Linked DNA regions of Homo sapiens. The protein of the gene in region 6 purifies or fractionates together with the protein of the main gene of each other region. This does not show direct contact. Each region holds a gene or a part of one and is shown on either strand. Other genes may lie near its edges.

Region 1 (4,140 bases), on a different chromosome or scaffold from region 6:
CATTGCACTCCAGCCTGCGCAACAGAGCAAGCCTCTGTCTCAAACAAACAAACAAAAAGATGCTTGTGAATAGGCAATTTAAAAGTTTTCTGGGCCCTGGAGGGTTCATTTTCCCTTCCTGCCACTTAACTAGCTGAGCAACATGACCTGGGAGGAGTTAGACTATTAGAGTTTACCCTGAGAGAGGCCACAAGATGCACACACGGATAACCTCTTCAGGGTACAATGGCATTAGTGTGTTAGGAGAGGTAAGGGACAAAGTTCAACAGAAGGCTGGGTGTGGTGGCTCATGCCTGTAATCGTAGCACTTTGGGAGACCGAGGCGGGTGGATTACTTGAGGTCAGGAGCTAGAGACCAGCCTGGCCAACATGGTGAAACCCCGTCTCTACTAAAAATACACAATTAGCTGGGCGTGGTGGTGGGCGCCTGTAATCCCAGCTACTTGGGAGGCTGCAGCACAAGAATCGTTTGAACCTGGGAAGTGGAGATTGCAATGAGCCAAGATCACGCCACTGCACTACAGCCTGGGCAACAGAGTGAGTGAGACTCCATCTCAAAAAGTTCAACAGAGGAAAACTTCAGGACCTCAGGGCTGGCCCATTCGGAAAGGCCCTCAGAGGAGCTTGCCATTTGAGCTGAATCTTGGTCTTGAACTCCTGGCCTCAAGCAGTCCTCCCGCCTCAGCCTCCCAAAAGTGCTGGGATTACAGGAATGAGCCACCACTCCCAGCCAAAATTTTTTTTTTTTTTAATTAGCTGGGTTTCAAGTTCTTCTGCTCTGACCAAAAAAAATTAGCTGGGTGTGGTGGCACACACCTGTAGTCCCAGCTACTCGGGGGCAAAGATGGGACAATCACTTGAGCCCAGGAGGTCAAGGCTGAAGTGAGCCCTGATCATGCCACTGCACTCCAGCCTGGGCAACAAAGCAAGACCCTGTCTCAAAAAGAAAAAAAGAAGTATGATAAAGATAAGCCTTTGTATCAGTTTCATGCATTCTCCTTCTGCCTTCTCTTCTCACTTGAGTGCTCCAGGGAACATGAGTGCAAATCAGATGCATCTATTAGTTGCAAACAAAAAACCTGGATGCTTTAGTTAACCTCAAGATTTGGTTAGCTGGGTACAGCTAAAACTAATTATACAAGATCCAAGTCTTCCCTTTTCACCTCATTACCACCGCCCTTTTTTGTGTTTAAGCTACACGTAAATACAGAACATTCTGTAAGATTGAAAAGTCAGGAAATAGTTCCTGCCCTAGTATTGGAGGAGAGGGTGCCAGTGCCTCGACGCTGAAGAATGAAATACAAGGGAAACAGCAACCACCGTGTATGCGGCAAGCCTCTCAGCTGTCAGAATCTATTCCCTGCTGTCTCTGCCAGTAACTCATGCTGGGCTACCAATCCCCAGCTTAGTCCCTTTCTCAGAGATCCTGATAATTTCAGTTTGTCAACTGCAAGGGCAGTCTGTTCCTCCACTCACTTTGACCAAGATGGGCTTCTTTGTGTACAGGCGCATTTTTAGAGGCAGGACCAGGTCCACAGGGAAGGAAATTACAAAACACAGGATTCTGCCCCAGATGAGGCAACAGCTTTCTAAATCTTAGTACTGTCCAATCTCAGAGTGAGATTATTTGGGAAACAGCTCTCAATCCCTGCAGTTGTCTCAGCTGGTTATTTATGCCTTGGGTGGAGCTGGGGTGACCTCTGAGTTCCCCTAGGGTCGATGGCCGAGTGGGAAGGCTCTATCACTGAAGTGGACCCAATACTAGAAACGGATCCAGTACGATCTGATCAGGTTTGCCTAATCCAAGGGCCTCAATGGAAAATGCCTCCCAAGGCCAGGCACGGTGGCTCACGTCAGTAATCTCAGCACTTGGGGAGGCTGAGGTGGGTGGATCACCTGAGGTCAGGAGTTCAAGACCGCGCTGGCCAACTTGGCGAAACCCGTCTGTACTAAAAATATAAAAATTAGCCGCGCATGATGGCGCACTCCTGTAATCCCAGCTACTCGGGAGGCTGAGATGGGAGAATCGCTTGAACCCGGGAGGCGGAAGTTTCGCTGAGCTGAGATAGCGCCATTGCACTACAGCCTGGGCGACAAGAGCAAAACTCCGTCTCAAACAAAACAAAACAAAACAAAACAAAACAAAACCTGTGCCTGGCAGCCTGGAGCCGGTTCTGGTCTCCGTCAAACCAAAGGCATCAGTTTCCTCCACTCCTGTCCACCAATCGCCAGATATTCTCATTTTCTTCAGAAGCTCGGAATCCACATTTTTAAGTGAAATCACCCATTTTAATGTTAGCAACTTATTTCAAAGTGTTTTAGATACTATAGACCAAAAGAGGTATGGGCTGTGACCGTAAGCCTGATTTGGCCTCTGACGGCCAGTTTCTGACCACAGTTTTGGAGGGAATTTCTGCTTCCAAGGTCAAGTTTCTCCTAAATGCCCACTAGAGTTCGTGGGGTGGAGTGAGGAAGGATCCGCGACACCGGATACAAACAGAAGCTCTCCTTCTCCCGGAGTCCGATCAAGGCTCATCCCAGGTCCCTAATCTCTTCCCTTTGTGGGTTTTGAGTCAAGGAACAAAATTCAGGGCCAAGCCCCTACAACCTCCTCCACAGGCACCAGTGCTCGAGAGACGACCGCCAAGCACCCCGCCCTTTGCAGCACTCACCGACCATGGCTCTGGTGCAGTCCGGGGCGCTGATTGGCTGGGCTCGTGGTTGCCGGGGCGACCCTGGCCGGAACTAGGCTCTCGGTGAGCTGGGCGGCTCCGGCTGCAACCTTGTGGGAGTCGCGTGTGTAGTGCACGGTGCATTCTCTCTTATATATCCTGTCCGGCCCGTTTGAGGTGGACAGCCTACAAGGGCGGGACCCAACGCCTGAATCCTGGGGTGCTGGGCGGAGGATGCTGAGGCTGCAGCTCCAGGAAGGGAGGGAGCCTGGGGGATGAAGGAGGGGCCTCTCCACTCTCACCCGCCGGAGCAACTGGTGGAAGTCAAGAAAAGTCTCTCGGGGCTGGGGGAGGGGATTGTAGGGGTGTGTGTGACAGAGGCCTCAAAAATCTGGCTGGGGGTGCTAAGGCAAGCCCATCTGCGCACTGTGCCCTGAGGTGCAAGAGGATGCAGGGTGGAAGTCGTCCCAAGAGAGTCCAGGGATCAAGTGGGCATGCCCTTTTAGCCTTGGCACGAAATGGAGCAGAAAAAGAGCCGGATGCGGATTACTGTGGTGCCCTAGGCTCAGATTCTGCTGAGTCACTGTGACTGCGGATTTGGAAGGCTGAGAGTCCTGGGGAGACATGCTCCGTGGAGACGAATTTGTTTCTTCCTTTGCAAGATTCAGATTCTGCACTTGGGGGCCCATACAACACACTTCCCTGGGTGCATGCCACTGCACCACCCCTGCTCCTCAAGGCAGGTAATGGGGGAACTAATTGGTTTTGTTTCCCATGAGCTAAGGCAAGGCTGGTGTGGAGATAGCAGTTATAGGGAAGCATATTAAAGAATAGCCAAAACGGGACCAGGCGCGGTGGCTCACGCCTGTAATCCCAGCAATATGGGAGGCCGAGGTGGGTGGATCACCTGAGGTCAGGAGTTCGAGACCAGCCTGGCCAACCTGGTGAAGCCCCGTCTGTACTGAAAAATTAGCTGGGCGTGATGGCGGGCGCCTGTAAGTCCCAGCTACTCGGGAGGCTGAGGCAGGAGAATCGCTTGAACCCGGAAGGCGGAGGTTGCAGTGGGTCGAGATCGTGCCACTGCACTCCCGCCTGGGTGACGAAGTGAGACTCCGTCTCAAAAAAAACTCTATAAAGTAAAAGTTACTGTAAAGAAGGAGATATACTCTCAGTAGGTGAAGGAAAAAGAACTAGAGCTTTAAAGTGGTAATTAACCATCAGAAGAATCACAGATGGGGGAGGTGAGGATGACACAGGGCCCTTCCGTTGTCCCTCCAGTGCAAAAGTTAAGGAGGCACCAGAAAACTGGTTTCCAACTCCCGACCTCAGGTGATCCTACCGCCTCGGCCTCCCGAAGTGCTGGGATTACAGGCATGAGCCACCGCGCCCGGCCCCATCGTGACATTTTTGCATTCATTTTGATGCAACAAGAGAGGACTATATTATTTACACGTATTTACAAATTACT
Region 2 (3,291 bases), on a different chromosome or scaffold from region 6:
ATGTTATAGGGCCCAATATTCAAAGAGCTACAATGCATAAACCATTTTATAGGTAGACATAATCCAAAATGTAAAGACACAGATAAATGACTGCTCACATATACAGTTATAACTTGTTAATTACGGAATTGAGCCTATCCTTTGTGATTACACCGAGAGCAAACACTTGGAAGCTCGCAAGTGGTTTACTCCAGACCATATTTGAGTTCTACAAAATAACACTAGTGATTGATTTCATGATCATAAAAAACATTAATCAGTTGTAAACATTTCTAATGCTTGCCACTTTTCCTTTTCTTATTATCATTTCCATTTTCATTTTGTATTTTCTGCTAAGTGGATAAAATACTACTAATAATATCCACCAAATTTTGGGTACTTATGATGTACCATTGTGCTTGTTTTTTTCACACATTATCTCATCATCTCTATTACTTGTTAAAATCTCCACTGCCATCAGTTACATAACTTCTTTTTCCCTCATTATTTGAATGACCTTCTATGAATCCTAGAACCTTAGAATATAGAGGAATAGTAAACGTCTGTTACTGGTTATAAATTATCTCCAATAATGGTGCTTTTGCATCTACACTCTGCATTTGATTTTAACACTTCCTCATTCTCTACACTGAGATCTCCATATTGCAGAACACCAAGGCCAAGTGCTCCTATTCGCTCCACTAAGACAGACTTTCTGGAGGCAAATGCAGTATTTGGCTCATGGGCAAACATGCAAAGAAAGGCACGAAAAAGGTTTGAAATGATTAAAAATGCTAAATTGACAGGATCCAGCAAGCAATTCCATGTGAAAGAGGTGGGAATTGGAACCTGGCCCACAAGATTGACGGAACTGCCTTTGATCTGGTAAGACATTGAGCAGGTTGGGAAGAACAAGATAGAAGCACAGATTTGGAAACATCTAATGCGACCACATGGGCCATATCCACAGTGTGTACACTAGACAGTAATACAAACGGCAGGCCTACATGGAAGGTGCAGATTCAGCAATGATCTTGGCTGCTCTGGAAAGTTCCTTGGAGTCACGAGAGCAGAGGCACAGGTTGACCCATGCTGACCCCAGGCCACTCTCCCTGCCAGAGAACAGAGCTCTGGAGTGAATCCAGGAGGAGACTTCCAGAAAGCTCCTGTCTCACCTCTGTCTCACGTTGGCCTCTGTGCCCCTGGTGTGGAGGTCACTCTCAACACCCATCCTACGTTCCTCCTCTGAAAATAAATTAGGACAACCATCTCCAAAATTACTTACATATCAAGGGTCAAATATCGCACATTTCTGTTTAGGCCATCTATGGCTTTCATCTCCTCTGAAGTCAACTGGAATTCAAACACCTATCAAAGTAATAGAAAACTTTAATTATTTTTAGATTACATCATTGCCAATTGGGAACAACCAAGTTCATCAGACAGTAGGGTGCAGAGACAATACTTAAAAGATTGATACGTTTCCAAAATTTATGAAAGACCTCTCTAAACACCCAAGTGGTCAATGAAAACCAGTCAAAAATAAGCAGAAATCCATTCCCAGATAAAATATTTTGAAACTGCACAACACTGCAGATGAAGAGAATATCTCAGAGGAAGCTGAAGAAGAAACAGAGCTTACTTTGTGCCCACATGATAGGGCCATGTACCTAGAAGACCCACAAGAATCTAGAGGCAAATTTTGTAATGTCTAGCATAATTTAGTAGGTTTGATGAATAACATTGAATATCTATCTCTCCAATGAACAGGTATAATAGGAAAAATCAGTTTTCAACATCACTCAAGCCAATAATTGTCTAAATACTAACGATTTCACATTCAAAAGGTGTGGGTACTCACTATGTAAATTTGGGAGACTCTAAATATCAAAAAGATGTCACTCTTTCTAATACATTCAATCAAATAAGTGTATAAATCCATAGGGAAACTGAAGGAGTAATACAGAAAATGAGAGAAAGAGAGTAAAAAATGACAGCAATGTAACACTTGATGAATGTAGGTAAGAAGATTTGTTGCATTATTCTTTTAATATTTCTATATATTAGAAAATCCACAAAATGAAAATGAAAAGTTATCAAAAACTATTAAAATTATCAGTAATTGCCGGGCACGTTGGCTCACGCCTATAATCCTAGCACTTTGGGAGGCCAGCGCAGGAGGATTGCCTGATTTCAGGAGTTAGAGAACAGCCTGGGCAACACAGTGAAACCCGTCTCTACTAAAATACAAAAAATTAGCTGGGCATGGCAGCATGCGCCAGCAGTCCCAGCTACTCTGGAGGCTGAGGCAGGAGAACTGCTTGAACCCGGGAGGTGGAGGTTGCAGTGAGCCGAGTTCGTGCCACTGCACTCCACCCTGGGTGACAGAACGAGACTCTGTCTCAAAAAAAAAATGATCAGTAATGGAGAAATTTATGCAATTAATGATATATTTATTAAGAGATGATTTATTAATAAGTAGTGGGATATTCATATTATGATCATGGACTGGAAATCTCAATATTGTCAAAGATTCAGTTCTCTCTGCATTGATCTGCAGGCTTATTACAATGTCAATGAGAGACTAAAACATTTACTTGCCTGTGGAAGTTAATAAGATGATTCAAAATTTTAAATAACACATTAGTCAAGAATAGCTAAGATATTATTAAATAAATGAAGAAGTTAGAAAAATATTTGTACCATACTGGAAGTGAAACTTACTTTTTAACATTATAGCACAGAAAAGTGAATAAGTTAACTGAAGATGGAAGAGAGGCCAGATAATTGCTCATGGACATTTCATATATGTGTCAGGTAAAAAAATTCAAGTTATGTGAGCAAATATAAACTTTTCAATAAATGGTAAATTTTGCTAAAAATTCAAAAATTAGATACGCATATTTGGATCCTTATTTCACATAATATTTTAAAAGTCATACCCATTAGAATTAACCAAATTTATAAGGAAAGAATATTAACAATTTTGTAAGATAACACAGTAAAATATTGTGATATTCCCAATATAGGATAAGACACAACACACACCAACCACAAGAAAGAGGCATGAAAAATTAGTCTACATGAAGGATAGAAACTTTTGTTTGTGAAAACATAACCACAGAGAATATGACAACGCAGATAAAATTTGGGAGATGTTATTTCAAGAATACATTCAAGTCTCTAAAGAATTCATATCCAGAATAAATACATATATATGTATGGTTTCTAGTTAATCTAACATATATATTATATAACACATATGTCATATATCATATATATCTATATATACTAGATGAATTAGAGAACATA
Region 3 (3,500 bases), on a different chromosome or scaffold from region 6:
GTTTCAAAATGATACCAATTTTTAACAAAGCTTTCGCCTCAATTTTAAAATGGTTCTTAATGTTTAGTTTAAAATCTCTAAAATCATTTTAAAATTTAATTATATCATATATTTATTGCCTTATCTTTATGATTCACATGTAAATGTATTCACTCAAAAAAATCTAATCTTAGGCATGGGGTAAGAGTCCTTAGTCCAGTGACCAAGGTTCCCTTTGAACAGTCTAAACCTCCCATGACAGTGTCTGCATATTATTTTTCTTTTTCATTCTTTCTCAAAACAGTTTTATTACTAAAGGCAATCACAGGATTCTAGAGAATCTTTTTCTCTCTTCTCTCTCTTTGATTCTGATCATATTTGTGGGCTTGCTATGTATGACTAGGCTCATTTATTTATTTTTTTTTAAAAATCTTCTTAGTTTCAATAGACTGTGGACTTAGCTGATCCCTCCCCCAAATAAACACAGACACAACTATAATACAAATGCTAAGCTTCACTGCAAATTACTACACACAGTGCCCCAAATATTTGTCCTACTTAATATGCATTAAATAAAAATGTACGAGAATTGTGAAAACTCAGAAACAGCCAATTGTCAGCTAGGTTACAAATATAAATGTGACTGTGGTTTTATATTGCGTTTATTAGCAGAATTTTTTTCATTTTTTATTTTTTTGTTTTTGGCTAGGAAAGTTGCTCCTAGTTCACAGGATAGAATTATATTAATATTCCATGATGTTCTTTAGTGAGAATATGACTTCCTTATGCTTTGATACTTGAACAAGCGTGAGAAATATTTTTCTATAAGAAAACAGGGAAGTATGAAAAATTAGCCCCCAAAATTAAGCCCTATGGAAATTAAAAGTTAAAATTTCTTATGCTAGCTTATTTTTGTTTTTTGTTTTCAGTAGAGATTAGGGTTTCACCATGTTGGCCAGGCTGGCTCAAACTCCTGACTTCAAGTGATCCTGCCCATCTGGGCCTCCCAAAGTGGTGGGATTATGATTGTGGGACACTGCATCCAACCCCTTATATCAGGATATAAGGTGAAATAATATTTCACATTGTGCCAAATAAATCAGGCACTGACATATGTATACATTAAATTACAAGAACTGTTTTGAAAGCAAATGAGACATTAAACTCATCTATACTGATTTACATTGAATATTAATTTATTTAAATAGAAAAGAGAGAAATAAGAAAGTGTACACAATATATAACTTTGCCTATCACTGAAAGAGTCACAAGAAGATGCAGTAGAAGAAATGGAAAGTGTGTAGTAAATGAGACCTATGTAGATGACATTGGGTACTTTCATTGATGATTTTCTCCTCTTTTCTACCCCATTTTAATAAGATTTCAGAATAGACAACACAATTGAATAATTTTATTTTTTGTAAAGTGAACTAACATACTTTTTTTGTAGACTTCCCCTGCTGGACCTGTCCATATACCAAGCTGTGCAGCTGTGGCACAGGTATGTGCAGTTACACCTGGCAGCAGGTGACAAACCCCTTCAGGCTTGTTCTAGATGTGTTTTTAGATTCTTATTGCATCCCCCAGGGTCAAATCTCTTGGCTCTGTTACTGACTTCTAACTTGGAATTGGATGGGAACACTCCCTTTTCCCACAGGAAAAGGCCTTTCAGCTCCAGTTTCTAGTGTTCTGGGCTCTTTGAGAAACACAATATCTCAGGTTCTAGCCTTGGAGGACACAGAGAGGCCACAATGGAGGAGGATCCTGGAGTAGACAATGTGGCTGTGTAGCACTGGAGGTGGTCAACAGTGGCTGACCGCTCTGCCAGGCTACTGTCTGGTAGGCTTCAAATTCCCATTTGAGATCTGTGGCAGGGGATGGGATACCCAGGAGAGAAAGAAAGAATTCATAGGCTTCTGTGAAAGGCCAGAATATTTGATTTTATGGGCCGTTTTAATCTTAATTATAACTTCAAAGCAAAATGTTTGTAATCACTAATCTCATTTTAAAGTTAACAAGGTCATGATCCCTCAAATAGCCATTAAAACTATGCTATTTCTGTGGCATGTTAAAATCTTATTGCTGAACCCCCAAAATGTGTATGAAGTTTATTGGTTTAGTAAGAGTTTGAAAGTTTCTGTAGCCAATTGGAAGCTGATATAAGAATATCTAGGCCTGGATAAAAGCCAGGCAAACTAGCAGTTTATTTCTCCAAGTAACCAGCTGTGGTTTGTGTTAAGTGTACTGCCTCTTATCATCTCTGCAACTTCCAAATATTCCATGATGTTCTTTAGTGAGAATATGATTTCCTTATGTTTTGATACTTGAACAAGGGTGAGAAATATTTTTCTATAACAAAACAGGGAAGTATGAAAAATTAGCCCCCAAAATTAAGCCCTACGGAAATTAAAAGTAAGTTAAAATTTCTTATGCTAGCTTCTCAGCATAAGTTCTCAGCAATATCATGGTGGGGCCCTGGTTCTTCAGTGCTGAGGAAAATACCTAGTGGTAGTCACTGGTATGAGTGGTTTCAGCATGCAAGACTGTTATGTTTGATCATAGTAGTCAGGAAAGGATGGGAAAGACACTAGAGAACTATTGCCCCTGGGAAAGACTGTTAAATAGCCAGTCTGAATTACTGATGGAAGGAAAGGTTAACAGCTGGGCTACGACTACCTGCTTTAGCTTCCTGAGGAAAGATTTGACCTCAACTCAAACTCCCTACAACTCTGAAGGCTGATGAGGGTCTTTTAGCATCTGCCATTACTCACCACTAATCCAAGAATAAATGTTCCTCAGCTTGCTGTACCTGGTGCCAGGATTGTTTATTGTATAACTTGTAATTTTATGGGCTATATCCACACTAAAAAAGGGAACTATTCATATGCTTTATCAAGGTCTACATGGCTAGCACTAGCACGGTATTTAAGATGCAAGACTTCAGACATGCATGGCAGCTTCCCAGTGGTGATGTGACCCATGCTCTCGTCAGCCCCTTGTCAACCTTAGGACCAAAATTCAACCCTTGTGGTGACTGTGGAGGGGCCTCAGAAGCTGCATCTGAGTGACTGAGTCCTCTGTGAAACTACTGTTGTGCTTCCTGTTATGTACCTGTCTAAGTAAAATCAGAGTAAGGTAAGCCAACAATGTCTTGTGAGTTTGACTAATAATCTGAACTTAAACTTACTACTGTGGTCTTGCAACTGGTCTTTCATAATGCTTTGCTTATGAAAATAATAATTTCTAGGTCAAGGCTATCACTAAGCACACACTTTGTCTTGCTCCCAAGGAAGACCAATACTTGGCTTTTACTATTTTTGAGTCCTTGAACTGTTTCCTTTTATTCTATATATACTACTTGGGCCACAAGCAGTAATCCAAGGCAAACTGTACCAATCTATTTCACACTATGACCCTGTTGAGCTGAGATCACCCCATGAGTTTTCACATAGAAAAATGATCAGCTTGTTAAAAAAAAAAACAAAAAACAAAAACAGTGGTCTATGTAATAGCAGTTTTGA
Region 4 (3,500 bases), on a different chromosome or scaffold from region 6:
CAAGTTTTCTATGGGTAGTATTAATACTAATATGATTTAGCTTATGTTTAAAAAAATCAAGAAAAGAAAAATTTTGTCTTTAAAATCTACTATATTAGTGACTGTAAGGAGATGCTTAGCTATTGAAGAGCTTCTCTCCACTCTTGTATTTTCTTTATGAGTTCTTCTGAGAGATTTTCACTGTGACTGTTTTGACCTCTGTATATTCATGGAAACCGTACTCTCCCCTAGAGAGAAGAAAAACATACCCACAAACACCATTTAGCACAGCAGTATAAATATACTGTAGTTCATGTTTGGTACGAGTTTGTTCTTGTTTTACTGGCTAGGGACAATAGAAAATATTTCTTGTGTACAGAGCATTTTATATAGTAGCTAGCCAATCATAAGATTTCTGGTCTTACACAGATTCCCTTGTGGGGAAAATTTTCTTTAAAACTTTCATTTTAAATAATCATGTACTGTCAGTTGATTTCTCACATAAATTGTCCCCTTTTGACATTATTCTACTTGATTTTAAAAACTCGAACTGCAGATGCAACAAGATCATCTTGGAGAAATGAAAACAAAAAGCTCTAAAACTACTCAAAAGACAATTCGACCCAACAAGAATTTTGTCATTTCTAGTTTAGATTGAAATAAGATGGACATAGGACAAGAGGAGAAGTAGTAATATATGATCACTACAAGGTCTACTCTAGTTCTACAGTTTTATTGTAGTACTAGAGCAGAGCTTGTATTTACCATGTGTGATTGTCATAGAAGTGGTAAGGGGATAGAAATTGATCATGGTTTCATTTTTAGTCTGAGGTGCCCTAAGATGGCTTGAAACAAAATATTTTGCAGCAGTAGTTTCAGCAAAATCTTTTGATTCTTGGCAAAACAAAAACATGACCTTTATTTTTTATTTAAAACTTTTAAATTGTTTTCTTTTTAAGAGGAGGAAGATGATAGATTGGTCTAAATTCAGGCTCTTGGGCTTTTTGCAGTTGTTGTTTTTTCCCCTTTATACAACCTCCTCGTCCCCTACCATTTTCTTGTATAACTCTTAAGTTCAACCCAAATGATCAGGAATTAACTCAGTCAATCAGTTTGGATTTTGGGATCTTGTTATCAGGTTTATGGAGACCTCCCACCAGTTTTAGAAACTGACTGATTTACCCCTTGTTGAAGAGATGACTAAAAAGATTGGGCTCAGTTATTCTCTATATTGTTTTGATAAGAGGATCAAATTACATGTATATAAGAGTAGTCTCAAAATCATAACACTCATGCACATGTAGGCTTACAGAAGAATAAGATCTTGATCCTTTTTTACCCCTCCCTTCTTGTGATGTAGACAGGTATGTAGAAGACATCATTTTCTGCTGGGTAACCTAATACTCTTACACTGATTATTTTCTTGGGCAATTAAGCTTTTGAAAATACCTTTTAAAAGCTTCAGTGAGCATGGTCCTTAAAGTAATTAAAGGGCTTAGCCTCAGTTGTCTGAAACCCATTAAAAGATAATATTTTAATAAGTATTTTATCTCAGGGTTAGATCAATCAACCCATGACTTTCGCCAATAGGCTTTCCATTGTATTTTGGGTCATATAGGCACTTGAAGCTCTCAGGAGAGTAATAAGTGGGATTTTTGTCATATTCAGGCTGAAATATGTCCTGCTCCTTAGGATTCCTATGCCTATACTATATCTACGACATAGCCCCAAACATCTGTTTGGATTTCTCTTCATCTTACTATGTCTGTGAGTTACTGTTTGTATACTTCTAAAATCTTCAATGTACAAATCACCTGGGACCTTATTCAAATACTGATTCTGAATTAGCAGGTCTCGAGTGAAGCCTGAGTTGGCATTGGTAATAAACTTGCAAGTGATATCAACCTATGCTTCTTGTCCAGGGTCCACACTGTAAAAAAAAAAAAGGCACTAGTACCACATTACATCTGATTTCCTCTCTGTACCCAGGATTAAGACTGGCACTAATTAAGTAGGCACAGAAGAACTGTTTGCTGAACACACTTGGTAAATATCAAGAAAAAAAATTCATTTGTGTTCTCACTATACGACCATTAGTTTACACTTCCTTGCTCCCTTTTCTATGGGACAGGAGGAAAAAAATATGGTGGGAGGGGCTAAGAGCCAATCAAGTTTAAAATGGCATACTAGCAAAGTCTTAAAGGACCTACGTTAACCTAAGTGAAACAGTACAGTTACACAAAGGGAGGAATTTCTGTCTTTTAACTAATCCCAGAGCCAACACTATGATCAGAGATGCAAAATCAAGATTTGCATACTCTGTATCACCTTCAAACACACTGGGGTCTGCATAACACCATTTTTCGCTCTTTGAGGACTCTGTTCTCAACTGATCAATTCTCTCTATTGTTGAGGAAAATTTATAATTTAACTCTTGGGAGTCATTTGAGGTTATCGCCTGAGTAATAACTTGTAACTCTTGGAACATCTTGCAGCAAATGACTTGGTTATTAAATTCACCAAATTTGGTTTCAGGTACACTTTAACTGTAGCATTCTCTAGTTGAATTTTTGAAGTAAAAAAAAAAAAACCCACAACTTTTTCCTTTGTATTTGAAAGAAATTATCTATACTCATGTTCTAGATTTTTAGGAAATTACTGATGGTTGATTCCTGTTTTCAGTCCTTCTCTTATTTGATTTCTTTATGCCTTCACCTTAAAGTCTGACCAAATTATGTTCAACGAAATTGACATGTTTGGTCTACTTTAGTCTTGCATTCCTTTTGATTATTTTATCTTTAATGTTCTCAGTGAAATGTGTTGTTAGATAACCAGGCCAGAAACGAACCAACTGCCCTTCAGAGTAATCTAACCTTTGTTCTTACTTTTTGTACAAAGTAATTAGTTTTGCCAAGAGATTCTCCAGTAATAGAAAGAGAAGAAACTAGGGAAGGAAGAAACCCATTTGTTGAATTTACACTTTGTGACAGTTATGTGGCTAGGGATTTAATATTCAGTATGTCATTTAACTCCCACAAGAACTCTCATTCCATCTTAAGAGGAATGTGAACATCTCCACCAAATATGAGAAAGTAGAGGCTCAGAAGTTAGGTAGCTTGAACTGGGGTGCATGGCTAGCAAGTGGCAGAATTAGGAATCAAATTCAGCTGGTCAGACTCCAGTAATGTTTTCTCAGCTACGCCATGCATTTTTGATGGGCTAACTTTTTGTTCTACTTCAGCAACATCCTAAATATATCCATGGCTTTTCACTACTCCACTAATAAAATCTAAGTCAAATTTCTTAAATGCAGGACTTCTTAATCTGTATCATATGTTACTCTGAAATCATATTTTTCATCCCCATAAATCCACACCAATCAACAAAATTCACTAGCCCCTCAACATACCACATGTAATGTTCCATGCAAGAAAGCCCTCTTCTCTACTAACTGATATCCTACACTTGCTTTCTGCCCTAGAGGAAGTTTCATCTCTTCTGTTAGGAGAAGTTTTCTTCTC
Region 5 (3,500 bases), on a different chromosome or scaffold from region 6:
CCATTTCAAAAATACACAATCATAAAGAAAAAAACTAGCTTACACAAACCTAGGAACCATTTCCAATTTCATTTTGCTTTTATCCATTTAAAGAGGCTTGGCTTTCTTACATCTCAGAACAAGCCAATTTCAAACAGTATTCAAAAGCACGCTGAAAAACACCACTTACTTTCTCAGCTTGATCCCATACTTCGATATCTCCAAGGAATTTTTCCGGGCGAGTAGAAAGGTTTAGTTTAAAAGAAAATCCAAATACGCTATATACCGTACGTAGAAAATCCAAACAACCTTTTATTTCATCTTCAATCTTCAAATTAAAAAACAAAAAAAGAAACAGTAGTTATTTTCCTTGACTTTCTTGACTCTTCTTTCTAAGTATTTTATTCCCAGGGTCTCATACCTGCTCCATGGCACAGAATATGTGAGCATCATCCTGTTGGAATCTTCGTACCCGGGTGAGTCCTGTGAGTGCTCCAGACAGCTCGTTCCTATGAAGTACCCCAAAATCAGCTAGCCGCAGAGGCAGTTCTCGCCAGGACCTTGGCCGATGATCAAACATAAGGCTGAAGAGAAAAAGAAAAGTCCACGGACACTTAAGAATAAAACTGCTTCTGTAATGCTATATTTAATTACACGAAAGGTTGTCAAAAAGCCACTGATTCTAGCTGTCCATCCAAGCAACATTTCTCAAATTCTGGGCTACATACAGCAGTAAAAGCACTTGCATGAATAAAACAGCAAATAAGTTATAACTCAATGAACCACAGTGAAGAATTAAAAAACGTATTCCAACAACTGAAGAATCTGGGAAAATTAAGAATGAACTTGGTTGGTCCCCTAGCCTATAATACAGCTTCTTCACAAAGATTCTTCTCTCACCTCCTCTGCCCTCCAGGCCTGGCTAGTAGGAGCTGCAGACACTAAGCTACCTGTATCCACAGCTCTCCTGTGTCTTCCCTTAAGCTGTTCTTCACCCAACTTTCAAAGATAGAAAGCAGAGCGGCCTCATGACAAGGAACATTTTCCAAGAATGCTGAGTCATTAGCAGGTTTTGACAGAACAGGTTTCTTTAAAACAACAACACACTAGGTAATTTGTTACACCCCCATATTTCATCTTCCTGTTTTATAGTCTGCCTTGGTCATTGCTATGATCCCAGTACCATTACTGAATGCCCACAGATCTGGAGATCTGGCTGGGCACAGTGGCTCATGCCTGTAATCCCAGCGCTTTGGGAAGCCAAGGTTGAAGGACCGCTTGAGGCCAGGAGTTTGAGACCAGGCTGAGCAACGTGGCAAGACCTCATCTCTACAGAAATAAAATTTTAAAAATTAGCTGGGCATGGTGGCATATACCTGCAGTCCCAGCTGCAGTGAGCTATAATCGCATACCTGCACTCCAGTTGGAAGACCTCTTTAAAAAAAAAAAAAAAAAAAGTGGGGATCTAATCAGGTGCAGAAGATATAATACAAAGATGTTGCGTTTAAATGCTCTTCTGATCACATAATTTGTTTTTAATGAAAATGTTGTTAAAGGAGGGAAGAACCCAGGATGAATTGTAGCATGTGAAAATCTTCAGTAGAAATTCAAAGCTGCCGAATACCAGTGTCCTGGGCAGTTCATGGGTTTCAGGGCAAACAGCTCCTTCTCCACCTCAAAGGAGAACATGTTCTCGCTGTAGTGCTGCCAGTGGCCCGAGGTCATCCAGAGTCGGCTGTTGAAGATGTTTGGGGTGACTACCTCCTGGAATCCTCTTTTCCTATATTCGCTCTGATAGAAAATAAACAGAAACATGTGTAGGCAAATAAATGCTCATACTTCAAGTGGGAGTAAAAACTTAAAGAGTGATTTTATACTCTCTCATGAAAAAGATGGACACATGCCATGATTCAGAAATCCCACTTCTAAGTATATACCAGAGAGAAAACTCTTGGCACATGTACCTAAGGAGGCTTATAAAAGTGATGCTACTGCAGCATGGCTGATAATAAGGGACAATTATACATCAGTGTCCATCAATACAGGGATGAGTGCATTGTGGTAGTTATATAACAAAATAATATGTAGCAAGTGAAAATAAACTTGATTTGCATGTCTCTAAAAATAAATCACAAGGCAGTCTGATACACAATGAGGCTTCCTATATGTAACACACAAATACATAAATAATTTAAGGGTACAAATACATGGGCTAGATATAAGTAACATGGACAAAAAGAATCCATGCCAACTTCAAAACAGTAGTTTCTTCTAGAAAACTGGTATATGATATACCAGTATATGGATATATATACCAGTATATGGAGGTATATGGATCAAAACTGGGTCCTAAAGAGAGGCTTTTTAAACAACTAATTTTTTTTTTAATATCATGAATGAAAAAATCTCAAGCAAATATAGCCCAATGTGAATATTTGTTAAATGTGGGTAGTTAAGTACAAGATATTGGATATACTATTCTCTATAAACTTATACTTGAAACATTTCATAATTTACAAAGGAAAAAAGCAATGTAAAAACCGTTTTTTCAAAGAAAATACAAATAAATGATCAAAGTCAAAGAGGGCACAGAGCTCCTATGTCAAGGACCACAGGTCCCCCTTCAAGCTCACCAGTTTCTATGTGTATATGGGCAAAATCAACTATTAGGGATGATTTATGAGGCCACAGACTTCTACTTTTACTTATCGTCTTATATATTTCTTCTCAAATACAGATTATCTTTCCTTTTAGTAGACCTTATTTAATAAAATGATCACATATCCTAAATCTAAAGAAGAAAGCAATAAATATGACTTACCCTAATGAATTCAATAAGTGCATTATAAATGTAGGCTCCTTTTGGCAGAAAAAAGCAACTTCCAGGGCTGAGTTCATGAAAGAAATATAGTTCTTGGTCCTGGGTAAAAGAAAAGCAAAAGAATGTTTATGTACGTCACGTATACGTGTGTGTATATATACATAAATTTCAGTGTTCTTGAGCTCAGAATATGGTCATGATGTCCCATATTTCAATCAGTGCCACTCCTGAATCAAAGAAACCATGTCAGTGTTTCTGATGTTATAGAATTGCAGCTGATTTACAATTTGGCAGACGTGTAACACATGCCCTGCCTGTTATATTCCTCAATCCAGTCAAGTTTCCCCAACAGTGGCAGGGAATAAGGGTCCCTTCAGTTCTTTAACTATCCACTGCAGTACCTCTCATGGTTCTTAAATTCCTTAAAGCTCCAAGATCTGGATCTTTTTTCATTTTATTTATGTATGTATTTATTTTCTTAGTAAGAGTATCAGGAAGGAGACTGGGAAAAAGACACTGATAATGAAATAGATGATGGTAAAGTTGGCTGACTTTGGGTCATGGTGAAAGAAACACACCCTCCTACCTCCTTGCCAACATCCGCCTCCCCAAGTGCCCAAAAGCCCTCAGGGAAGGGCCCATCAATCATTGCTGGCTGCCTCATAGCTGGAATGTCAGGTAGTCAGGGGTGCAAGGCAGT
Region 6 (3,500 bases):
GGAGAATCGCTTGAACTTGGGAGGTGGAGGTTGCAGTGAGCCAAGATCGCACCACTGCACTCCAGCTTGGGCAAGAGTGAGACTTTGTCTCAAAAAATAAATAAATAAATAAATAAATAAATAAATAAAAAGGTGAGACCAATTTAAAAAAATGAAGCCCAAGGCAGTAAATAATTTTATACTTTTTTTTTCCCAGGAATGGTGGTTAGGTAAAAAAATATGCTAAGATAAATATGGATCCTAATCACAACCATCCATGCTTATAACCAACCTGTGCAGGTTTTACCTTCATTTGCCTTAAGCATACCTGCCCATTTGCCTTCTTCCTATTATTTTCAAATGTAATATGAACTTATAAGTATTTTATGTGTCACCTTAATATTTAATTCTTTTGCCACTAGACTTGGCTTGAGAGGGAGACGGCATTTATTTTTCTGAAAAAAGGACTGTACTCGTTCCATACTTCTTTGGAGAACAACCTATAGAAAGAGATGTGATACTGTAAGTACATAATGAAAATGAAGATCTATTTTTCAGACAAGTTATGCTGTGGATACAATTTATAAAATGCCCAGTTGTCAAACGGTGAAAAAAAGGTTGTTACTAAAGAGAGTTAATTTTTACTATAAAACTAGAATGGCCAAAGGCTATAAATATAGTGGGCAAAGGTACATTTGGCCAACCAATGTATACGAAAATGTTAAAGCTCACTAATAGTCAAAGAAATAGAAGCCAAACAAAAATGAATGCAGTTTTTCACCTATCAGATGAAAATTTAAAACAACATCCTGTGTTAGGAAACGATTTCATAACTTATTGGTAGGGAGAGAGGTGTACACAGGTGTAGCTTCTTTTGTAGAGCAATGTAACAACTATTATAACTAAAAATACATGTCGCTCTTGACTCAGCTATTTCACCTGTAGGAATTTTCTGAAAGAAATACTAGCAAAGAAATAAAAATGTACACACCAACCAAAGTTCATTGCAGTATTGTTTAGTAAAGAGAAAACAGGTAAACAATGTATATAGAGGTAATAGTTTATAATTAAGATTGTATGTAATATTTCCCCAAATTAATCTATAATTCTTATCAAAATTCCAACTGCCTTTTTGCAGCAATGGATACACGGTTCCTAAAATTCATATGAAATTGCAAGTGTCCCCTGAATAGCCAAAAATAATAATGAAAAAGAACAAAGTAGGAGGACTTACATTGTCCAATTTCAAAACTTACTATAAAACTATGGTAATTAAAAAAAGTATAGGCTGGGTGGATGGCTCATATCTATAATCCTAGGACTTTGGGAGGCCAAAATGGGAGGACTGCTTGAGCCCAGGAGTTCAAGACCAGCCTGGGAAACATGGCAAAACCCTGTCCCTACAAGAAAAAAAAAAAAAAAAAAAAAAGACAGGCATGGTGGCAAACACCTGTGGTCCCAGCTACTTGGGAGGCTGAAGCGAGAAGATCACTTGAGCCCAGGAGGCTGAGGCTGTGGTGAATTGTGATCACACCACTGCACTCCAGCCTGGGCAACAGAGAGACCTCATCTCAAGGAAAAAAAGGAAAAAAAAAAAAAAAACAAATATAGCATATGGATAGACATATATGATATAGAATTGAGAGTCTAGAAAAAAACCCATATATGTGGTCAACTTTTTTATTTAAAAATTTTTAACAGAACACTTCACGAATTTGCATGTCATCGTAGTGTAGGGGGCATGCTAATCTTCTCTGTATCATTCCAATTTTAGTATATGTGTTACCGAAGCAAGCACAGGGTCAACTGATTTTTGACAAGTACGCCAAAACCATTCAAGAGGAAGGAGGGGGTCTCTTTAACAAATGGTGCTAAGACAACTGGATAACCTCATTCAAAAGAATAAAGTTGGGCCTCTACTTCATACCACAACGGATCAAAGACCTAAACATAAGAGCTAAAACTAGAAAAGCTTAGAAGAAAACACAGGTGTACATCTTTATGGCATTAGATTTAATGATGGATTCTTAGATATGACACTAAAAGCATGAGCCACAAAAGAAAAAAATAGATAAACTGGACTTCATCAAACTTAAACATTTTTGTATTAATATATTAAAGGACACTATTAAGGAATTAAAAAGACAACTGCAGAATGAAAAAAATATTTGCAAATAGTGTATGTGATAAAGGTCTAGTATCCAAAATATATAAATAACTCTTACAACTCAACAACAAAAAAGACATTCCAATTTAAAATGGACAAAGGACTTTGAATAGATATTTCTCCAAAGAATACAAATGGCCAATAAACATATGAGAATGTGCTCAATATCATTAGTCACTAGGGAAATTCAACTCAAAACCACAACGAGATACTGCTTCACACCCACTAGAATGGCCATAATCAAAAAACAGGAAAAAAAACAATGTTGGTGAGGATGTGGTGAAACTGGAACCCTTCTATATTGCTGGTGGGAATGTAAAGTGATATAGCTGCTACAGACAATAATTCTATGATTCCCCAAAAAGTTAAGCACAGAACTACCATATGACCTAGCTCTGCCATTCCTAAGTGGAAACAGTTGTTTAAACACAAATTTATACATGAATATTCATAGCAGTATTCTTTTTTTTTTTTTGAGACAGAGTCTTGCTCTGTCGCCCAGGCTGGAGTATAGTGGCTCGATCTCGGTTCACTGCAAGCTCCGCCTCCCGGGTTCACGCCATTCTCCTGCCTCAGCCTCCCGAGCAGCTGGGACTGCAGGCGCCCGCCACCATGCCTGGCTAATTTTTTGTATTTTTAGTAGAGACGGGGTTTCACCATGTTAACCAGGATGGTCTCGATCTCCTGACCTCGTGATCTGCCCGCCTGGGCCTCCCAAAGTGCTGGGATTACAGGCATGAGCCACCACGCCTGGCCAGCAGTATTATTATTAATAGTCAAAAAGTGGAAACAACCCAAATGTCCACCAACTGATGAATGTTTAAACCAAATGTGGTATATCCACACAATGGAATATTATTCAACCAAAAATGGCATGTAGTACACATGCTAGAACACAGATGAACTCTGAAAACTTTATGCTAAGTGAAAGAAACTAGACAGAAAAGTCCATGAAGTGTCCAGAATATCCATATAGAAGTATAGACGTATCCATATTGACAGAAAACAGTTTAGTGGCTGGGAGGGGAAAATGGGGACATGCTTTCTTTTTGGTGTGATGAAAATACTGTGGACTTTGATAGTGGAGGTAAAGGAATTCAAGAAAACAATTTTCATCAGAAAGGAATAAATAAGCATGGAAATAAATAAGCATGGGAAAATCACTGATTTTAATAGGTTGTGAAATATGTTCCTATATATTTTAAACAATCTTTGAATTTATCTGCCCCAAATAGCATGGGTATAGTTAGAGTTCTACTGGGAGTCTACCAATAAAGAATAGCAACTTAATTAGTCAGCACCATAAAGATCCTTCCTTTAACATTAACACATTTATATTACCTTTTATGGGTAC
Region 7 (3,500 bases), on a different chromosome or scaffold from region 6:
ACATCCTGAAGCAGAGCTGCCTCACTGCCCTGAACACACATGAGAGCCCAGCCAGGAACAGAAGGAATGGACTGAGTTTAGGCTGAGCCCAGGCTAATTTTCTAACCATGGAACCTTGAGCTCAATAAATGCTTTTGCATTAAGCCTCTATATTAAGTGGGTTTGTCTTATATCCTAAGGTATTGGTATAAATATGGTCTCCTACACATAAAAATAAAGACACACAACCACCTCGCCAAAAAAAAAAAGGCAGAGTTAAACAAGCACTTCGCAAAGATAAAATTCTAAGAGAATAAATATAAGGAATTTATACTACATAAACATACAAGAAGAAAAATCCGCCATGAGTTGGAGACTAAAGAACATCTAATCAATGCTTCATTATAAAAAATAAAGAAAAGGACATGGCCCCAGCAGAGGGATATGGATATCACTGACTTAACGCTAACCCAAATCTGTAGTTTTGATCCCATCCTATTTCTCTCCACCTCTGTTGCCTCTCCTGTGCTAGAGTAGAAGAAACCCTTATGACGTACACAAAGAGTTCATGCATAGGAAATACAGGGAAATGGAGCTGGCCCAAGGCTGTCCTGAGAGCCTTACAAGAAGCACACGTGTGAAGGACACTGTGCAGGAGACCTGAGGCCCACAGCCCCGCTCCTCACCTGCACGTTCTGTCTGATGCGCTGCTCATTGTAGCTCTTGGCCAGGACCACAACCCCACGCTGTAGCTGGTAGCGCAGGGCAATCAGGGCTGGGGTTCGCTTGTGCTTTTTTGCCAAGGCACAAAGGACTGGGTCCTCCAAGAGCACCGGGGAGTTCGGGTCCACCCTGGAAGGAAAGGCAGAAAGGCTGAGGCCCTGAGGCTGGGGATACAGTTTGTTAGGCGGCTCCCTAAACAGACTAAGGCGTCCACTCTGCACCGGAGCTTCTCAAGCGAGGCCCCCGAACAGCAGCCTCAACATCACCTGGGATCTCGTCAGAAATGCAAATTCTTCCCTCACCCCAAGTCAGCTGTGAGTGAACTCCAGGAAACAGCATGATCTGATTAAATTTTTTTTATCAAACCGGTGTTTTAGGTAAACTTCCTGTATCTCTTATTACCATGGTTCTTCTCGGTGGGATCCCAGAGCACTATAGGCAACCAGAACAATGTCTTTTGACTTGCAGAAATCCAGCAGTTTTCTCTGGTTGAAGTAAGGATGACATTCCACCTGCAGACGAGCAAGATGGAAAAGCATCAGATAATCCAAAAGTTACACTAATATTAAAATCACCAAAGTAAAAGAAGCTGAATAATGTAGAGCATTAAATTTGAACTGAGAATATTATTGTCAAAAATGATCTTTTTCATAAAAATAAATTTTATGCCCCTCTCTCCTAAGAAAATAGAAATGCTATTTCTGAGCACAAGCAACTCCATGAACCCTATCCTGGTTTCTCAATAACTCCGACCACTAGAACGAGACACGGCCAATTTCAGAGCTGGGATGAGGTAAGATTCTTTGAGCCTTGGGCATCAAATCGTGCCAGAAATCAAGAATTTGGTCAAAGACTCATGAGGGCAGGTCTGAAAGACAAAAGAACTAGTTTCCTAATTAATACCAAAAATGCATACATGTATATGTATGTTTTCTAATTGATCTGACATATAATATATATATCATATATGCCATCTATGATATATATCTATATAGATGAACTAGAAAATATACATACACACATAAATACTGATAATTTTCACAGTCTTTCATTACTTTTCCTTTTTGTATGATGGATTTGTATGTTGATATCTCAAATGTCACCAGTGGGTTCCCTATGAAACAAGTGCTTTTGTCTTTTACACTTGCCCTCATGAGTCTTTGATCACATTCTTCTTTCATATATATTTTATATATATATATATATAATATATATATGCTGAGTAGATGTGAGCATTAAAAAATGAGTAAAATAAATTAAAAATCATAACACAAGAATCCGTGAGTCTGTAGTAATTAGTGCGACAATGAGAAAAAGAACAACAATCTTTGTCTACTCTGATGGTGGTCATTACAGTAATTACGTTCACAGTACATTGCTAATTGAAGGAAGAAGTTCACCTTTACCCTCACTTAGAGGAATAGTAGTTTATTATTTTTACTTGGTGAGAAATCATTTTTAATTAAATGTCAGGTAAGAATAGTTAAACAAGTGGTTAAAATTGTAAATGATTATGTAAAAACCCCAAGGAAATAACAAATAAGAAATAACAAAGAAGAAAACAGAAATGCAGTAGAAAAAAGTTCAAATCACTGATGTATACTCAATCATATGTGAAAATTTGTCATGGGAATATGACTTCTTCTGTTGAGAATTATCCCCCAGCAGATTACTAGTAATTGTTAAAGAGAAAACATGAGTTAAAAACAACAGATCTGACCACTGTTAGCTTAACCAAGTTTTTTTTTTTTTATTATACTTTAAGTTCGAGGGTACATGTGCACATTGTGCAGGTTAGTTACATATGTATACATGTGCCATGTTGGTACGCTGCACCTACTAACTCGTCATCTAGCATTAGGTATATCTCCCAGTGCTATCCCTCCCCCCTCCCCCCACCCCACAACAGTCCCCAGAGTGTGATATTCCCCTTCCTGTATCCATGTGATCTCATTGTTCAATTCCCACCTATGAGTGAGAATATGCGGTGTTTGGTTTTTTGTTCTTGCGATAGTTTACTGACAATGATGATTTCCAGTTTCATCCATGTCCCTACAAAGGATATGAACTCATCATTTTTTATGGCTGCATAGTATTCCATGGTGTATATGTGCCACATTTTCTTAATCCAGTCTATCATTGTTGGAGCTTAACCAAGTTTTTAAAACTACCTTCACCACTAGTGGGGCATTCTGTGATTGTATGCAGTCTAGTGTGGTGCAATTTGAAAAACACAGCATGATAAAAATATTTTCTTGCCCCAAAGGTTTAAGTCAATGTAATAAAACACTCTCATCTAACTTCTAATTTACAGAAACCTTCAACAACTGGGAAAAACAAGTTAACTGATATCAAAATACAACAATATAAAAACAATTGAATTCTGGTTAAAAAAAGAAGAGCTACAAAAGATATTTTGATTAAGCAAGGAAAAATTCAAATATGGACTGGATACCAAATGACATGAGGGCACTATAGATGATGTTCTTAGATACAGTAATGACACTGGAACTGGGAGAATATCTTCATTCCTGTGACATGCTTTGAGAGGTCTCTAGGGGTCAATTGTCATCTTTACAATTTACCTTGAAGAGGTTCTAGAAACATTATATGTATTTATGCAGATATACTCCATATAACATTGCAAAATGTTAGTAATTTTGAATATAAATGGTAACATGGGTCTCCAGTATTATTTTTATCAAATTTTTGGAAAGTGTGAAAATGGCCATATTAAAAAATTGGGGAACTACTAGTATTAAAACCACATTAATTTCTCAATGCTTTTATTAAATTAT

The links.
Region 1: the proteins of PIK3C2A (region 6) and NQO1 purify together in Homo sapiens (affinity purification with mass spectrometry; one large-scale study listed by BioGRID and IntAct). This does not show direct contact.
Region 2: the proteins of PIK3C2A (region 6) and AKR1C2 purify together in Homo sapiens (affinity purification with mass spectrometry, with the first as the bait; one large-scale study listed by BioGRID). This does not show direct contact.
Region 3: the proteins of PIK3C2A (region 6) and SNAP91 purify together in Homo sapiens (co-immunoprecipitation; one large-scale study listed by IntAct). This does not show direct contact.
Region 4: the proteins of PIK3C2A (region 6) and ALDH1A1 purify together in Homo sapiens (affinity purification with mass spectrometry; one large-scale study listed by BioGRID and IntAct). This does not show direct contact.
Region 5: the proteins of PIK3C2A (region 6) and TARS1 purify together in Homo sapiens (affinity purification with mass spectrometry; one large-scale study listed by BioGRID and IntAct). This does not show direct contact.
Region 7: the proteins of PIK3C2A (region 6) and AKR1C1 purify together in Homo sapiens (co-immunoprecipitation; one large-scale study listed by IntAct). This does not show direct contact.

Annotation. Positions count from the first base shown.
Region 1 is NC_000016.10:69,723,761-69,727,900, forward strand, and holds the start of NQO1 (NAD(P)H dehydrogenase [quinone] 1), read right to left. Parts: upstream 2,801-4,140; 5' UTR 2,680-2,800; coding exon 2,673-2,679; intron 1-2,672. UniProt on the Homo sapiens protein: Flavin-containing quinone reductase that catalyzes two-electron reduction of quinones to hydroquinones using either NADH or NADPH as electron donors.
Region 2 is NC_000010.11:4,990,567-4,993,857, forward strand, and holds part of AKR1C2 (aldo-keto reductase family 1 member C2), read right to left. Parts: intron 1,348-3,291; coding exon 1,265-1,347; intron 1-1,264. UniProt on the Homo sapiens protein: Cytosolic aldo-keto reductase that catalyzes the NADH and NADPH-dependent reduction of ketosteroids to hydroxysteroids.
Region 3 is NC_000006.12:83,587,102-83,590,601, forward strand, and holds part of SNAP91 (clathrin coat assembly protein AP180), read right to left. Parts: intron 1-3,500. UniProt on the Homo sapiens protein: Adaptins are components of the adapter complexes which link clathrin to receptors in coated vesicles. Clathrin-associated protein complexes are believed to interact with the cytoplasmic tails of membrane proteins, leading to their selection and concentration.
Region 4 is NC_000009.12:72,901,054-72,904,553, forward strand, and holds part of ALDH1A1 (aldehyde dehydrogenase 1A1), read right to left. Parts: intron 228-3,500; coding exon 155-227; 3' UTR 1-154. UniProt on the Homo sapiens protein: Cytosolic dehydrogenase that catalyzes the irreversible oxidation of a wide range of aldehydes to their corresponding carboxylic acid.
Region 5 is NC_000005.10:33,457,965-33,461,464, reverse strand, and holds part of TARS1 (threonine--tRNA ligase 1, cytoplasmic), read right to left. Parts: intron 2,900-3,500; coding exon 2,801-2,899; intron 1,771-2,800; coding exon 1,604-1,770; intron 564-1,603; coding exon 401-563; intron 308-400; coding exon 170-307; intron 1-169. UniProt on the Homo sapiens protein: Catalyzes the attachment of threonine to tRNA(Thr) in a two-step reaction: threonine is first activated by ATP to form Thr-AMP and then transferred to the acceptor end of tRNA(Thr).
Region 6 is NC_000011.10:17,113,987-17,117,486, forward strand, and holds part of PIK3C2A (phosphatidylinositol 4-phosphate 3-kinase C2 domain-containing subunit alpha), read right to left. Parts: intron 480-3,500; coding exon 375-479; intron 1-374.
Region 7 is NC_000010.11:4,969,915-4,973,414, reverse strand, and holds part of AKR1C1 (aldo-keto reductase family 1 member C1), read right to left. Parts: exon of another isoform or gene 3,017-3,500; intron 1,496-3,016; exon of another isoform or gene 1,386-1,495; intron 1,215-1,385; coding exon 1,105-1,214; intron 1,017-1,104; exon of another isoform or gene 832-1,016; coding exon 666-831; intron 1-665. UniProt on the Homo sapiens protein: Cytosolic aldo-keto reductase that catalyzes the NADH and NADPH-dependent reduction of ketosteroids to hydroxysteroids.